2 separate regions of the Homo sapiens genome follow, and region 2 is reported to be linked to region 1. The links are microRNA targets in miRTarBase. Many come from high-throughput screens and were not tested one by one. Region 1 holds a microRNA gene; the other region holds the end of a gene's coding sequence. Distances are between the middles of the regions.

Region 1 (3,083 bases):
ACACCTATTTTCTTATTGTTTTCTTGTTTGTCCCCCTGACTGGAATGTAAGCCCCCAGAGGGCAGAGAGGTGGCTTTATATTCAGAGATGGACCCTACACATCCAGGACAGACCCATTGAGGAGGGAGGGACTGGCTGGGCTGCCTGGAACCTTATACTTCAGACTAACTCTTGCGCCCACAGTGCCCTGGGCAGTCCTAACATCCCTTTGTTTGTGTGCCCAGAGCATCAGACTCCAGCCAGCCATTATCTCAGGCGATTTTATCTCTCTAAGTATCTGTTCTGCTCCTACGTGAGCTACTTTGAATTCCCAGGCACCCAGCCTGGAGGCGCTGAGCCTGCCAGGAGCTTGGTAAGGGTGGCTCAGCGGCACCCATGGGTGGAGTGAGTGGCAGGACTTACAGAGCCGGGACTTCAGCTCTGAGGGCTCAGGAAGCCTGATCTCACCCCATTCCTGCTGGGCTTATTCACTTGCTCTAGGCCTGGCTCAGAGTAGGTGAACCAGACGGACGCTGCCAGGGTCCCCAGCCCAGCAGGGGACACAGAGAAGGTGACCAACACGAAGAGCTCTTTTTAGTTGGAAAAAGTGCTCTGAAGGCAGCCAGCGGAGTCGAGTGATGCAAAGCATCAGGGTGATGCGCTTTACACGACATGGCTGGGGAGGCCCCTCAGAGGCAGGGGCAGCCTGAGAGCTGAAGGATGTGGGGGCCATCCTCATGAAGCGAGGAGAGCAGCGCCCAGTGCTGGAAGGCCCCATGCAGAAAGTTGCCTTGTGTGTTCCCAGGTAGCTGGGGTAAGGAAACCCCACCCAAAGCAGGGTGAGCAACCTGCCCATGGTACACCAGGGCTGGAACGCAGGGCCCCAGTCCCAGCCAGCCTCTGCCCACTACGCCAACCAATTTCCTCTCTGCTCACAAGGCTGAGATCCTTATCATCACACACAACAGAGGGTGGGTGCAAAGGTCAGGAGAATCCATGAGCTGTGTCCAAGCCTTCCCGAAGGACCCCCTGCCTCTGGCCTCTCCCCTCCGGCCAGGGTTACTCACCCCGCCACCACCTGGGGCGCTGCGCTGTATGGAGACTGGGGCTGCAGGCTCCTTGTAGCCACCATAGGACTGGGCCACCGGCTGCTGCTGGGGCTGCTGGTAAACTGGAAGATGGGAGGAGACAGGGCTTGGAAACTGTCCTGCCAAACCCAGCCCCTCCCAGAGCTCCCGAGAAGTCCATACCATGCACTTCCACCCCGCCCCCAACCTGGCTCAAGCCCCACAGCTCAAAGGCTGATGTCCACGTGTGCACATTTGCCTGTGTGTTGTATCCCACGCAGGGGCTCTGAGCCCCATGACCTGGGGGCCTCTCCTTTCAATCCTCTTGGCCCAGTACAGGCCTGACCCTGGTGCTCACGTCCTCATTCTGGATGAGAATGGAACTTGGGGTCTTGGGAAGCAGTCTTTTCCTCGCCTGCATGCGTGCGTGCATGTGTGTGTGTGTGTGTGTGTGTGTGTGTGTGTGTGTCTGTCTCTCGCCGACTTCCTCCCCACCCCAGCTGGCCCGGCCTCAGGTCCTCTGGTCCCCTCTTGCACACAAGAGGCATAATCGCCTGTTGATTAAGAGCAAGGCTCCGGAAGGTGTATCTGTCTGTCTGTCTTCTCCTGGCTTCCTCCCCACCCCACTGGCCTCGCCTCAGGTCATCTGCACCAACAGGACCTGCACTCACCCGGGGCACTGGTCGGGATGTGGTGAGGCTGCTGCTGCTCCAGGGGCCGCCGGTAGCTGCTGCCGTCCTGTGAATCCCGACGCTCTGGCTCCATGCCCTCGCCCCCGCTAGGGCCCATGCGGCTCTTCTCAAACTCCTCATGGTATTTTATCTGCAAGGTCAGAAGGCACTAGGTGAAGGGTCCCACTGCAAACCACCCAGTTCCTTCCCGTGACCCTCAAGATCCCAGGATGGGAGAGACTACCCAAGAGCTTTGGGTACAGAAAGCCAGGTCTCGCTCTGGAAGCACCAGCTGTGTGTCCTTGGACAAGCTACCTAATCTTGCCAAGCCTCAGTTTTCACCTCTGCAAAATGAGACACCAGTCTCCCTCAGACACTGTTGGAGAATGCAATGAAATGACCGATGTAAAAGGACCATGAGAACTGAAGAATCAGACCAAAGTGAGTGGTCCCTTTTCTTTTTTTTTTTTTTTCGAGACGGAGTTTGGCTCTGTCGCCCAGGCTGGAGTGCAATGGTACGATCTCAGCTCACCGCAACCTCCACCTCCAGGGTTCAAGTGATTCTCCTGCCTCAGCCTCCTGGGCGGCTGGGATTACAGGCGCCTGCCACTACGCCCAGCTAATTTTTTGTATTTTAATAGAGACAGGGTTTCATCATGTTGACCAGGCTGGTCTCAAACTCCTGACCTCAGGTGATCCACCCGCCTCGGCCTCCCAAAGTGCTGGGATTACAGGCGTGAGCCACCGTGACCGGCCAAGTGGTCACTTTTATATGCCTGCGGCAGGGGCGGGGCTGCTCTGTTTCCGCCTGGGTCCACAGTAACCACAGCAGCAGCCCGTTTCCTGAGCTCTTACTGCGCCAGGGCCGTGCTAGGTGTTTTATGTCACAGGCTCATGTGAGCTCGTCAGCGCCCCTGAGGGGTAGATTGCAGACCCCATGTAACAGGCAAGAAGGAAGCGAAGGGATTGATAAGTGAAGTGAGTGGCCCAAGATCACAGATTCCAGAGCCTTGCTCTTCATCAACAGGCGATTCCACCTCTTGTGTGCAAGATGTCGTGGGTACTACAGCCTAGGATGCTCCGCTGAGAATCCCAGCCTTTAGGGATAAAAACTGCCAGACCCTCCCTGAGGGCGGGACATTGTCTTGGATGGGCTCCTTCTCGGGTCAGGTTCCAAAAATGAGCAGAGAGGCCCAAAGAAGTCATATCCCTCAGGACCACCCCACTAGGCGGGCATGTGAGGCTCCAAGCCTTCAAGTCAGTCTCTTGCCCCCACAGTGCTCTACTGGCTACAGAGTCCCCCACCTTGACCACCACCACCCAGGAGTCTTGAGTTGGGCCTCATGTTGTTTGAGGGCTGTGACTG
Region 2 (3,083 bases), 18 Mb from region 1:
ACCCCGTTGGCGCTGCCCTTAGATTATTCCCACTACATTTCCCTGCCCGCTGGTGTGCTGAGCCTGGCCTGCTGCACCCTCTATGGGATCTCCTGGCAGTTTGACCCTTGCTGCAAGTACCAAGTGGAGTACGACGCCTATAAACTGTCGCGCCTGCCTCTGCACACACTCACCTCCTCCACCCCGGTGGTGCTGGTCCGGAAGGACGACCTGCACAGAAAGAGACTGCACAACACGATAGCACTGGCCGCCCTGGTGTACTGTGTAAAGAAGATTTACGAACTCTATGCCGTATGATTTCAGTAGAACAGGGAGCGAAGCAAAACCACCCGGCCCACAAGAGACAACAGAGTATTCAGATCGCCACACTCTGTGAGGCAGCAGAGCCTGGGCAGGTGTTTGGCTTAGTATTTGTTATTTTTAAAAAATAACAGATCACGGGTGTACCCAGGGTTTTTCAGCTCATTACACTAAGATGTGGATTTCCATAACCCAAGAGGGGGGTCTGAGGCTGTGGAAGTCCGACTGGGCAGTGGAATGCTGATGGAGGCAGACGCTGCCGAGGGGGTGTGGACGTGCTTTGGGGGAGGTCTTTAAGTCTATTGTTTAACTGTACCATCCAGAGCCCACCAGAAGCTATTGATCATTAAAATTATGAGAATTTCAACTCCCGCTGTTCTCTCTTTCCATGACTGCCCGCAGCTGCTGCTGCACATCTGCTCTGGGTGGCGGCTTGCACATGGAAGGAGCAGGTGCCATGGTAGCCACCCTGCCCTGCTCCTAGCTGCGGCCCAGTGTTACCACTTACAGCGACGACAAGCCTAGATCCAAGGTAGTCCTGGGGCCAAACCCCGCCCAGGAGCAGTCTCCTGGCTCACCTTGGCCTCATCATTCCGAAGGCCATCACTGCCACCATGCTGTTCAGGAACATGGTAGGATAAGGTGACGAGGCTTGGAGGCCTTTGGGTGTCCACTTGAGTTCACGTGGGGAACTCTGGGCTCCAGGATCGCTCTTCAGAGATCTGAACACCTGTGTTTTCTTTGAAGCACCAAAACTCTTCCTACTGTGGACCATGAGTTTATTAACCCATTGCCCTAGGCTGACAGAAGAGCCCTCGGAGCAATCTTGGAAGCACCCCCTGGCCTCAGTGCTCGCTGTTCCACAGGAGCCAAGCCGGTGCTTCTCCCTCACACCAGAAGGTAGACTGTGTCACCTGCCACATTTCCTCTAAGGCAGGGGTGGCCAATCTTGACTTCCCTGTGCCACATTGGAAAAAGAATTGTCTTGGACCACACATAAAATACACTAACGACAGCTGATGAGCTAAAAAAAAAAAAAAATCACAAAAAAATAATGTTTCAAGAAAGTTTACAAATTTGTGTTGGGCCACATTCAAAGCCATCGTGGGCTGCATGAGGCCCATGGGCTGCTGATTGGTGATTGGACAAGCTTGCTCTAAGGCTTTGGGTAAATGGGAAATTCTCTCTTCCACAAAAAGGCTGGGGTGCCTGTCTTCACTTCTGCCTTCCTAAAGCCCCATTCATCCCTGAAGAGCCACATGGCACCTCCTTCTGAAGGCCAGTCTTTTGTTTTGTTTTGTTTTGTTTTTGAGACAGAGTCTTGCTGTCACCCAGGACGGAGTGCAGTGATGTGATCTCAGCTCACTGCAACCTCCACCTCCCGAGTACAAGTGATTCTCCTGCCTCAGCCCCGAGTAGCTGGGACTATAGCTGTGTGCTACCATACCTGGATACTTTTTGTATTTTTAGTATAGATGGGATTTCGCCTTGCTGGCCAGGCTGGTCTCTAACTCCTGGCCTCAAGTGATCTGCCCGGTTCGGCCTCCCAAAGTGTTGGGATTACAGGCGTGAGCTGCCGTGCCTGGCCAGGCCAATATTTAAGAGACAGCCAAAGTGGTTTCTCACCTAGTTTTAAAGTCCCCATCAGGAAGACCTGATGTCACAGAGTAATGAAAGGGTGCATGGGAAGGATTCACGAGGGGTGATTGGGCCATTTTTTGTAGGGGAGATTCACACCTCTTAAGGATTTTAAAAGGGACCCACGGCCCACAAAAAGTTTAAGAAACTTTGATTTAATTCCAAGAGATTTAGAAATAACTTATCACTCAGTTGAGTGCTGGGGGCATGACGGTGTTGGGTGTGCACCACTGTTTACGTGGCAGTCTCTGGGCACCTGGAATAATGGTAAAGAGGGAACTGCCTTAGCCACACAACTGATCCCGTAAAAACATGCCTCATCTCGACAGCAGTGTGAGTTGAAATGCAGCTGCCCATGACCCCTCAGGTGTCTGAGTGCTGGCATCTGAGCCTGCTGGGCAGGTTTTTGGTTTTTTTTTTTCTTAATAATGCCCAGGTTTGGAAAGGGAGCCCCATACCTGGCCTGGAAGTGCTCTGCCAACAAGTTAGATTTCATGGGGGAATTGACTAGAAGGCACAAGCTGGACAAGCCAGACAAGTCGAGGCAACCTCAAGTCAGCTGAGCAGGAGCCCTCCCCCGAGGTAGAATCCAGCTGCAAATGGGTAGCTCTTCTACCATTTCCCAAGCTGCACTGAACCAAGTGATTCTTATTGGATGTATTAACCTAGATTCTGAAATGCCATCTTAGTTACATGGCCCCTGGCCAGGGAGATGGGGATGAGGTGCTGGTGTGGACTGCAGGCAGGGGTTTCGTGTGCCTGAGGCTGGCAGCAAGAAATGTGCCTCCCTTCCCACTGTCAGTGCTGACTTCTCTGTTCCTGCCATTGTCCTTGCTAGATGATCAGTCATGGCAGAGCTGCTGACAAGTTGCTTATGGTCATCTGTGATATGCGACAGTACTTCTCAAGAAATAGCATTTGAAGGCTGAGTGCAGTAGCTCATGCCTGTAATCCCAGCACGTTGGGAGGCTGAGGCAGGAGGACCATTAAACACTTGAGTCCAAGAGTTGAAGACCAGTCTGGGCAACATAACAAGACCTGTCTCTACAAAAAAAGACAAAAATTAGCCAGATGTGGTGGTACGCAAATGTGGTCTCAGCTACTCAGGAGTCTGAGGAGGGAGGATCATTCAAGCCTGAGAGGTT

What was found. Region 1 holds the annotated microRNA hsa-miR-6779-5p (CUGGGAGGGGCUGGGUUUGGC, at 1,189-1,209, opposite strand). A microRNA usually pairs through its seed, bases 2 to 8, with sites in the 3' UTR of a target mRNA and lowers its output. Matches are read on the target gene's strand: a 7mer-m8 pairs with bases 2 to 8, a 7mer-A1 pairs with bases 2 to 7 and ends in A, and an 8mer does both.
Region 2: miRTarBase lists TMEM11 as a target of hsa-miR-6779-5p. The part of its 3' UTR that is shown has no 7-base or 8-base seed match.

The regions. Positions count from the first base shown.
Region 1 is chr17:38,913,110-38,916,192 of GRCh38, reverse strand. MIR6779 (microRNA 6779) reads right to left here and starts at 1,214; the gene lies at 1,151-1,214. It overlaps LASP1 (LIM and SH3 protein 1), which reads right to left. Exons shown (of 7, transcript NM_006148.4): 5 at 1,718-1,868; 6 at 1,047-1,150.
Region 2 is chr17:21,195,538-21,198,620 of GRCh38, reverse strand. It overlaps TMEM11 (transmembrane protein 11), which reads left to right. Exons shown (of 2, transcript NM_003876.3): 2 at 1-667. The coding sequence ends at 297. Among named protein-coding and RNA genes, the nearest start is that of TMEM11, 17 kb to the left of the region's middle.